3 linked regions of the Homo sapiens genome follow. The protein of the gene in region 2 purifies or fractionates together with the protein of the main gene of each other region. This does not show direct contact. Each region holds a gene or a part of one and is shown on either strand. Other genes may lie near its edges.

Region 1 (3,654 bases), about 59 Mb from region 2:
AACAAAGGGGCCTGGCTTGCCAGAGCTGGCGGGGCAGGGGTAGCTGGGGCAGGGGTAGCCGGGGCAGGGAGCTGGCCCCAGGGCAGAGGGCTGGCGCCAGGCGGCCCAGCAGGGATTGGCAGGGATTAGCTGCGGTGCTGGGGGAGGAGGGGGTGGATACACCAGGCAGGTGTGGGAAGGAGAGGCCTCACTACCTGAACCTGGGATCCAGAAACGAGGGATGCTGCTCACACTTGGGGAAGGGCTCCCCCGAGCTCCTGCCAGGACGGTGAAGTCTCTCCCCAGGTGAAGAGAACCAGAGCCACCAGCTCTGAGGCCCTCTTGGCAACAGGGGGCTGCTGGGGACAGGAAGAGTGTCACATTTCATGGATGGAAAAAGCCAGCGTGAGAGCATGTGAGTGAGTGTGTGTGTGTGTGTGTGTGTGTGTGTGTGTACGCGTGCATGCGCAATTCAGGATTCTTGATGGAACAGGCTCTTGAACTCCAGCAGCAGGGGTGGGGGAAGGGGATGGGGTGGCGTGGCTCAAAGCCCCTTTCTCAGGTTCCTGCTTCTCAATAACAGCAACAATAATGGCTTACCTTCATCGAGCATTTTCTGTGTGCCAGACACAATTTTTTTTTTTTGAGACAGAGTCTCGCTCTGTCACCCAGGCTGGAGTGCAGTGGCTAGATCTTGTCTCACTACAACCTCTATCTCCTGGGTTCAAGCGATTCTCATGCCTCAGCCTCCTAAATAGTTGGGATTACAGGTGCCGGCCACCACGCCCAGCTAATTTTTTGTATTTTTAGTAGAGATGGGGTTTCACCATGTTGGCCAGGCTGGTCGCAAACTCATGACCTCAGGTGATCTGCCTGCCTCAGCTTCCCAAAGTGCTGGATTACAGGCATGAGCCACCGTGCCCAGCCAATGCTGTTCCAAGCACTTCACACATACTAACCCCCGACTTTCCAGTTAGGAAACCAAGGGTACAGCTGGCGAGTAATGTGCCCAAGGGAGCTAGGAAGCAGCAGCACCAGGACTTGGACACAAGCCTGAACCCAGAGTCTCCTCTCTTAACCTAAATGCATGCACTGCCCAGCCAGGGACGGTGGCCAGGCCATCTGTTGAGAGGGCCCTGTCTCTCTATCTATGTAAGGGAGCTGTCTAGCTGTGCCCTCCCCACATGCCCACTTTCCTCCCTATAACCTGTCTATTCCCTGTTTTCCAGGGAAACAGTGCTGCTGAGAGCCCACACTGGGACCTTAACCCCCAGGTTCCGTGGCCAGGCGTGGTGACTCACGCCTGTAATCGCAGCACTTTGAGAGGCTGAGGCAGGTGGATCACCTGAGGTCAGGAGTTTGAGAGCAGCCTGGTCAACATGGTGAAACCCTGTCTCTACTAAGAATACAAAAATTAGCCGGGCGTGGTGGCACATGCCTGTAATCCCAACTACTCGTGAGGCTCAGGCAAGAGAATCGCTTGAACCCGGGAGGTGGCGGCTGCAGTGAGCAGAGACTGTGCCATTGCAGTCCGGCCTGGGCGACAAGAACAAAACTCTGTCTCAAAAAAAAAAAAAGAAAGAAAAAAAAAGCCGGGCACGGTGGCTCATGCCTATAATCCTAGCACTTTGGGAGGCCAAGGCAGGTGGATCATGAGATCAGGAGTTCAAGACCAGCCTGGCCAACATGGTGAAACCCCATCTTTACTAAAAATACAAAAATTAGCTAGGCATGGTGGTGGGCGGGAGCCTGTAATCCCAGCTACTCGGGAGGTGGAGGCAGAGAACTGCTTGAACCCAGGGGGCAGAGATTGCAGTGAGCCGAGATAATGCCACTGCACTCTAGCCTGGGTGACAGAGCAAGTCTCCATCTCAAAAACAAAAACAAAAAACAAAAAACCAAACAAACAAAAAAAACTCCCGGGTTCCTTGGGCCACGCAGAGCCTGCCTCTCTGGTTGAGGATCCCACGTGATTGTCCAGTTCAGAGGGTCCCAAACCTGCCCACACATCAGCATCACAAGAGAGGTTGTGGAATCCAGGCTCCTAGGCCCCAGGGCTAGGGGTCTGAGGTGGGCCCAGGAGTCTGGATTTTTCCTACCTTTCCCAGGTGATTTCTGATGTCAGCCACATTTGGGAATCACTGGTCCAATCCATCCCCTTGGTCCGCTGACACTGGGCTGCAATGCAGGGGTCTGGGAGGCGGTTCACAACAAGAGAACTGAAGGCAAGCCCTCCAACAAGAGACCCTGGCATGACCTCCTAACATCCCCAAGGAAACAGCCTCAGTAAACCCAGCCTGCACCCCATTCCCTTGACCTGTCTGCAACACACATTCCTTCCCCTAAAGAGGCCTCCAGTCTACCTCCTCCAGGAAGCCCTCCTTAATCTCATCCCATGTGGTCACTCCTTTGCACGTGCAGTCTTGGTTTGCCCAGTAGTTGACGTATTGGTACAAACCTGCTCCTTCTCCCTCTGCCAGGCCAGGGCCACATCTTTATTTCCTTGGTCTCCCTCTCCCTCACCATGGCTGGGACTGGGCATGACCAAGACACACTGTACATTCTGGCCTTAAGCAGCTACGTGAGGCCTGACACAGTGGCTCACACCTGTAATCCCAGCACTTTGGGAAGTGAGGGGAAGCTGAGGCAGGCAGATCAGTTGAGATCAGAAATTTGAGACCAGCCTGGCCAACATGGTGAAACCCCGTCTCTACTAAAAATACAAAAATTAGCTAGACGTGGTGGCAAGAGCCTGTAGTCCCAGCTACTCAGAAGGCTGAGGCACGAGAATTGCTTGAACCCAGGAGGCAGAGGTTGCAGTGAGCCAGGGTTGTGCCACTGTACTCCAGCCTGGGCAACAGGGTGAAACTCTGTCTCAAAAAAAAAAAAAAAGGCCGGGCACAGTGGCTCACACACCTGTAATCCCAGCACTTTGGGAGGCCAAGGTGGACAGATCACCTGAGGTCAGGAATTCAAGTCCCACCTGGCCAACATGGCAAAACCCCGTCTCTACTAAAAATACAAAAATTAGCCAGGCAGTGGTGCATATTACATACTGCAAGTTATACGGTGGTGCATGTAATCCCAGCTACTAGTCCGGGCGCGGTGGCTCACGCCTGTTATCCTAGCACTTTGAGAGGCCTAGGCGGGCGGATCACCTGAGGTCAGGAGTTTGAGACCAGCCTAACCAATGTGATGAAACCCCGTCTCTACTAAAAATACAAAAAAAATTTAGCTGGGCATGGTGGCAGGCGCCTATAATCCCTGCTATTCAGGAGGCTGAGATAGGAGAATTGCTTGACCCAGGAGGCAGAGGTTGCAATGAGCCCAGATTGTGCCATTGCACTCTAGCCTGGGCAACAAAAGTGAAACTCCATCTCAAAAATAATAATAATAATAATAATAATAATCCCAGCTACTTAGGAGACTAAGGCAGGAGAATCACTTGAAACCAGGAGGCAGAGGTTGCAGTGAGCCAAGATTGTGCCACTGCACCCCAGCCCGGGTGACAGAGTGAAACTCTGTCTCAAAAAAAAAAGCAGCAACATGGAAGGTACTTTTGTACTTTTGTGGTGCCACTGCACTCTAGCCTGGGTGACAGAGCAAGTCTCCCTCTCAAAAACAAAAAACAAAAAACAAAACAAACAAACAAAGTACTTTTAGGAACAGCTACCA
Region 2 (3,654 bases):
ATATTTTTAGTAGAGTTGGGGTTTTATCATGTTGGCCAGGTTGGTCTCAAATTCGTGACCTCAGGTGATCTGCCTGTCTCAGACTCCCAAAGTGCTGAGATTACAAGCATGAGCCAGTGCACCTGGCTGGCATTCAGTTTTAAAAGGGAAACAGTATAAAAGTTTGAAAAATTTACAGACTGAAAATGTGATAGAAAAGAAAATCCCATTTCCTGAGGAGAAATTCAAGCTGGCTGCAGAAAATTGCATAAGTAATGAGGAGCTGAATGTCACCAAGACAGTGGGGAATATGTCTCCAGGGCACGTCAGAGACCTTTGCAGCAGCCCCTGCCATCACAGGCCCCTAGGTTTTGGAGGAAAAAAATGGTTTTGTGGGCCTGGCCCAGGGTCCCTCTGCTATGTGCAGTCTAGGAACTTGGTGCTCTGCCTCCCAGTTGCTCCCAGGATGATTTAAATGAAGCCAAGGTACAGCTTGGGCTGTTGCTTCAGACAGTGGAAGCCCCAAGCCTTGGCAGCTTCCACATGGTGTTGAGCCTGTGGGTGCATGGAAGTCAAAAATTGAGGCTTGGAAACCACCACCTAAATTTCAGAGGATGTATAGAAATGCCTGGATGCCCAGAATGAAGTTCTCCTCATGGAGAACCTCTGCTAGGGCAGTGCAGAAGGAAAATGTGGAGTGAGCCCCACACAGAGTCCCTACTGGGACACCACGTAGTGGAGCTGTGAGAAGTGGGCCACTGTCCTCCAGATCCCAGAATCATAAATCCACTAACAGCTTGCACCATGCACCTGGAAAAGGCACAGACACTCAATGCCAGCTGGTGAAAGCAGCCAGGAGGAGGGCTATACCCTGCAAAGCTGCAGAGGCGGAGCTGCCTAAGGCCATGGGAGCCCACCTCTTGCATCAGCATGACCTGGATGTGAGAAATGGAGTCAAAGGAGATCATTTTGGAGCTTTAAGACTTGACCGCCCCTGTAGTCCCTTTGTTCTGGCCAATTTCTTCCACTTGGAATGGCTATGCTTACCCAATGCCTGTACTTCCATTGCATCTAGGAAGTAACTAACTTGCTTTTGATTTTACTGGCTGCTCATAGGCAGAAGAGACTTGCCTTGTCTCAGATGAGACTTTAGACTGTGGACTTTTGAGATAGTGCTGAAATGAGTTAAGACTTTGAGGGACTGTTGGGAAAGCATGATTGGTTTTGAAATGTGAGGACATGAGATTTGGGAGGGACCAGGGGTGGAATGATATGGTTTGGCTGTGTCCCCACCCAAGTCTCATTTGGAATTCCCACGGATTGTGGGAGGGACTTGGTGGGAGGTAATTGAATCATGGGAGCAGGTCTTTCCCATGCTGTTCTTGTGATAGTGAATGGGTCTCATGAGATCTGATGGTTTTATAAGGGGGAGTTTATCTGCACAAGCTCTTTTCTCTTGTCTGCTGCCATATGAGACGTGCCTTTCACCTTCCACTGTGATTGTGAGGCTTCCCCAGCCACATGGAACTGTAGGTCCAAAAAAACCTCTTTCTTTTGCATATTGCCCTGTCTCGGGTATATCTTTATCAGCAGTGTGAAAACTGACTAATATACCACTATACAAGTTCTTACATTACCTGATGAAAGATATCTAATTGTCTATTATAAAACCATAAAAGCTTTGTTAATACATTTTGAAACCTGAATAATGAGAGAGCAGGAATTCTGAACACACATACTAGTTTATCTATAAATTAGAAATATATATGTTTCCAGAAAAAAATTGCTTATTCAAATGTAAAAAAAAAAACCCAGTCTTTCTCCTTGTCAACATTTAAAGTTATTAGACAGTAACACATTTCAAAGCATAATTTAGTTGTTTATCAACAAGAAAAATGTATTACAAGAAATTAATTTATTCCAAATTTTTTTAAAAATCTGCTTTTCTCCATGTCAGTATTTACAGCAGGTGCCATCTTCTGATTAATTAAATCACAAGATGTTCCTTATGCTAACGTCTTAGCAAATAAAACTTAAACAGAAACTGTTGGTTGCACTGTTGTCATTTCTTCTTCTACTTTAAAAAAATTATTCAGAACACCACATGGCCAGCTTGCAAGCTTATTTTCCAGATCACTGATAGCAATGCGATTTTGTATTTGTGTGTGAGTATGTGTTTTGTTTTGAAAAAGACATCAGCTTGAAGCAGTTTCAAATCTCTGGCAATGATTTCTTAAGGAGTATGTCAAAAATGAGCTATTGAACACATTTTTGCCAGGTCACTTGTCAAGTACTTGGTAGGGAGATGTCAAGTTTCAGGGCAACCACAATCCACACTTATGAAACTACTTAGAAAACTATGGAAGAGTTCTGTGGCTCTTACTAGGTATTTTTAGAACAATCAAGAGAATTTTGTTCCTTAGCTTTAGCATATTATAGTCTTCAACGAATATTTTGTAAGTTTTTTTTCTAAGATATGGTCCCCAAATTTTCTTGAGAAATCCCCATGTGCTTGAATACTTGTTTAAGCACAATTCAGAACTGCGGGAGGTCTAAGTCTGCTGTGACTTAGTGTAAAGTTAACTCCTTTTTGAATGTAAAAAGTCAAAATTGATGAAGAAACTGGCAAATTCAAATTTCCACCAAGGAATAGCCCAGTGCTTTTAGCAATCCATTTGAAATGAAGGAGGGAAACCACCCTCTTTAACATTTTAAAGTTTTGAAGGTGTAATGAACCATGCTACCTCCTGTAGTTTCTACCAAACCAAGATGTGTGCTAGGACTGGGCTCATTAGCACTAAGTAGGAGCAGAACACTCAGTTCTGGCTATAGCTTCTTGCAATGTTTTTATCATTATCATAGTATTTGGTTGATGAATTATTGCTATCTCAACTGTTACTTCATTTTTCTTACTGTTTTTGATATAAAATTCCTGTTATACCATGAATTAAATGCCCCTGTGACAAAAAAAAAAAGACTTTTTCTGTTAATTCTTTTTAACAAGTGCCCAAAATATATTATTTTTTCAACAAGGTGGATTCTCGAAGCAAGGTAGTTCTTGTGACTGTTTACTTTCTCTTTCACATGTCCTAGACTATTGGATTATGGTTTGTGAGATAAGGAAGAAAAGGAGTAATTAAAAAACATAGATTATTAGATAGATAGGTTACTTGGGTTTTTTTTTTTTTGGGTCATTAAAGTAGGCATTACATTATCAAAGCTCAAAATGTTAGCAATGAATTTAATTCAATGGCTTTAAAAATTTTACATCTCGTCTGGGAGCGGTGGCTCACGCCTGTAATCCCAGCACTTTAGGAGGCCGAGGGAAGTGGATCACTTGAGGTCAGGAGTTCTAGACCAGACTGGCCAACATGGTGAAACCCCACCTCTACTAAAAATACAAAACTTAGCCAGGTGTGGTGGCACGTGCCTATAATCCCAGCTACTGGGGAGGCTGATGCAGGAGAATCGCTTGAACCCAGGAGGCGGAGGTTGCAGTGAGCCAAGATCACACCACTGCACTCCATCCAGGGCAACCGAGCAAAACTCTGAAAAAGAAAAAAAAATTATGTCTCTTCATTGCAGAGAAGAATTTTTGCTGAAATGAAAAACCACTAATTACTTGGAACACACTTTTACAGGTTACCTGATTCTGATTCTTTTGGAGCCTCTGTA
Region 3 (3,654 bases), about 21 Mb from region 2:
GAGACCAATCTGCTGCCTTTGTATTACTCTGTGTTCCATATCTAACACACCTATCAATCCTAATCAACAAGATTCCTTTTCTTTTTGTCAGGCAAGTCAGATAATCTCTCAAGTAGGTACAGCCTTTCTTGATTACTAAAAAAATAAAAACTCATACCCTACCCTAAGGCCACCTTCCTGAAGTCTCAGGGCCTCTACTGCTGCTGAATTTTATATTGTAGCTTTTCAATTTTTATCACAAGCTCCTTCAGGAATCAGGATTTAGTTTGTGATTTAGAAAGTTCTGGCCACTGCCTGGGGTCATAGCTATTTCTACCACTTTCCAGATGTTTGCCCTTGTGCAAGTTAATGAACTTTTTTCACCTACATTATCTATGAAAAGTGAAAAATAAAGAGTACTTTTCTTGGTTTTCCATGGTGGCCCATGCCTGGAAGTTACCCCAGCACTTTGGGAGGCCGAGGTGGGAGGATCTCTTGAGCCCAGGAGGTCGAGGCTGCAGTGAGCCATGATTGTACCACTGTAATCCAGCCTGGGCAAGAGAACGAGACGCTCTCTGAAGAATGAATGATATACAGCACTTGGGCAGAATAGTGGTTGTCCCTGGCAGGGGTGAGTAGCACAACGAGGTCAGAATTAACTAGGAAGGGGTATGAGGAACCTCTTGTGATGCTGGAAATGTTCTATATTGATATGGGTTTGAGTAATATAGATCTATGTATTAGTTAAAATTCAGTGAATATACACTTAAAATTTGAACATTTCATTATGTAAATTTTACTTCAAAGAAAAACTACAGACAAATATTTAATCAATGTAATGAAATACATGCTGAAATATTTCGGAGAAAGTATGCTGACGTCTGCAGTTTACTTTGAAATACATCAAAAAATAGACTGACGGAGTGATAGACAGAGGGTGGAGTGATAGATACATGATGAAGTTAGTACAGTAGAATCATAGACTCTAGGTGGTGGGTAAACCAATGATCACTATAAAATTCTTTCAACTTTGCTGTACATTTGAAAAGTTTCACAACAAAATGTTAAAAAAAAATAGCACCTGATACAGAGTAAGCACTAGTCAATGATGGCAAATAGCTATTTTCAGCTGAAGAGGGATGAACGGGGGTTCAAATCACTGAATCTACTATAGATCTGTCAGGAAGGAAAGAGACTGCTACTTTTCTCATAAACCTTCATCCCAAATCACGATTTACCTAATTTAAAAAAAATTTTCTTTGGCATCTTTATATAAAAATGAATTACTAAAAAAAAACCAATTAACAACACATGATTCAGGTAGTTCTAGCTAATAGAGGTGACACATATAGGGAAAGCAATGATCAGAACAGGGTAGAAAGAGAAGATAAAAAGCAAATATAATTTTACTGTATGACAAATCTCCCTCAAATAGTTTTCTATTTATTGAATACTTCTCTATTTATTGAATACTTCTAATGATGTGCTATTTTTAAAAAATCCAACTTCCTAAACATATCTAAAAGGTGCTGTTAACAAATTCTGTTTTAGTGCTGAAAATGCTTCAATTTGTCATGTCTGATGAGGCAATATTAAAATATCAGATGATTTTATACAGCTCATGAGCTATAGGTGGAGGAAACTGAACAAGACACCATATGTACGTTGAGCTCCACAAGGTTAGTTGACTTAGGACCTGCAACTTATCCACCCAACAGGACTAAGTGCTTTCAGCAAGAAAGCAGACGTACAATAGGAAATGGAAAGGGAAAGGAAAGCTGGATGTGGGGTGGTAAATGCTCCTGGGAATTAACTTCAGGTTTCAGAATAATTGTTGGCACTCTTCCCGGCCTTTATATCTGGGTAAGATATTAAATATTGGCTTTAGGTACTGAATATCTGAAACATTCCTTATGCCTTTTGAATATACTCACAGTTTCTTTTCAAATACTTCACTTACTTGATTGTCATTTTCATTATCTTTGATAACCAAATACCTCAATAAATTTAATGAAGCCATAATCCTGTTAATTAAAAATATATGTTACTTACAGTATGGTTTTATATAGTCAACAGCAATCTCAATAAGCTAAAACTTTGGTCATATTTTTATAATTAGGTTTGCCAATAGAAACTATTTCCATTAATATCTTTTTGAGTAGTAATAACTTATCACTGTTTTCCATTTGTTTAAATCATACAATTGTGAAAATTATCATCCTTGTTTAAAGAAAGCCTTGTTATCTTTAATATTTGAGAGCATCATCTCTTGCTTTCTGAATTTTAAGATTACTTTTTAAATGCTTTAAACCATTTCTCAATATCCATTCCAGTATACTGAAACTGAAATTATATGTTCTATATGAAAAAAAAAATGACCTGGAAAACAATAAAACAACAAAACCTAAACACATAAATTACATACACAGATTTTTAGTTTTAAGTCACAAGTGCTGTCATTGCAAATTTCTATGGAATGCTGGGTACATAAAAGCTATCAAATCATAGTGCTGGTCATTCATCTAGAAAGAGGAGGTTTTAATTTTGTTTCTACACATTATCAAATCACTTAAATATGAAAAATCTTTATGTAACTTAATGAATTAGCCATAGATCATAAAATCACAGGAAAAGACATTTTATTACTTTAGGTTCCCTAAGCAGATGTTTCACATTTTATTCTGAATTTACTATGTGAACTTTGGTAATGGTCACCTCACCTATCTGAGTTTTGCAGTAAATCTGTTTCTGCACCCTCTGGGAGAAAAAGTACCAAATCAAGAAGGGAAATCAACTGTGGTCCTGTAAACCATTTGTTGTTACGTGTTCTCTGAAAAGCAAACGAAAAATTGAGAAAGCTTTATAATTCATGTAATTCATGTGTTTTTCTAATACCTTGACACTACAAAAATGAAGAATTGCACATTTAAAATACAGTTTTTAACTTTAATTTCCGTACTTTCATTCACTTTCCAGACACCAGGAACGAACCCTGCCAGTTTGAGAACACTGGTCACTCTGTTTTCCATTTAGAATTACTGAGCACTCAGAAACAGAAGAGACTTAAGTTTCCATTCATTTTTGAGAAGCATATAACAAAGCAAAAATAAGCCACAATATCAGCTCAAAGAGGCCCAGAGTGATGACTCACACCTGTAATCCCAGCATTTTGGGAGGCCAAGGTGGGTGGATCACTTGAGATCAGGAGTTCAAGACGAGCCTGGGCAACACAGTGAAACTCCATCTCTACAAAATCAAAATTCAGCCAGGCGCACTGGTGGACACCTGTAGTCCCAATTACTCGGGAGGCTGAGTTGGGAGAACTGCTTGAGCCCAGGAGGTGGAGGCTGCAGTGAGCTGAGATCATGCCACTGCACTCCAAGCTGGGTGACAGGCGTGAAACCCTGTCTCAAAAAAAACAAAAACAAAAACCAAAACCTCAAAGAATACAATTTAAACTTATAGTTAACTAAATTTCCAAATTCAGAGTTTTTAAAACATAGTAGAAATAGGGGAAAAAATATGCCTTAATAATATTTAAGTAATAGTAATACTAGAGATAGAGCAATAACTCACATTAATGTATTCTACATATGAATAAATATACCCTACGAAATAAATTGGTAATTGACACTTTGGCTATGTTCTTACCTTTAATGACATGTCAATTTGATT

Evidence for each region.
Region 1: the proteins of NEGR1 (region 2) and PLOD1 fractionate together in Homo sapiens (co-fractionation; one large-scale study listed by BioGRID). This does not show direct contact.
Region 3: the proteins of NEGR1 (region 2) and GLMN purify together in Homo sapiens (affinity purification with mass spectrometry; one large-scale study listed by BioGRID and IntAct). This does not show direct contact.

The regions. Positions count from the first base shown.
Region 1 is NC_000001.11:11,941,203-11,944,856, reverse strand, and holds part of PLOD1 (procollagen-lysine,2-oxoglutarate 5-dioxygenase 1 isoform 2 precursor), read right to left. Parts: intron 336-3,654; coding exon of another isoform or gene 195-335; intron 1-194. UniProt on the Homo sapiens protein: Part of a complex composed of PLOD1, P3H3 and P3H4 that catalyzes hydroxylation of lysine residues in collagen alpha chains and is required for normal assembly and cross-linkling of collagen fibrils.
Region 2 is NC_000001.11:71,397,499-71,401,152, forward strand, and holds part of NEGR1 (neuronal growth regulator 1 precursor), read right to left. Parts: 3' UTR 1-3,654. UniProt on the Homo sapiens protein: May be involved in cell-adhesion. May function as a trans-neural growth-promoting factor in regenerative axon sprouting in the mammalian brain.
Region 3 is NC_000001.11:92,260,924-92,264,577, forward strand, and holds part of GLMN (glomulin), read right to left. Parts: coding exon 3,631-3,654; intron 2,810-3,630; coding exon 2,700-2,809; intron 2,004-2,699; coding exon 1,940-2,003; intron 1-1,939.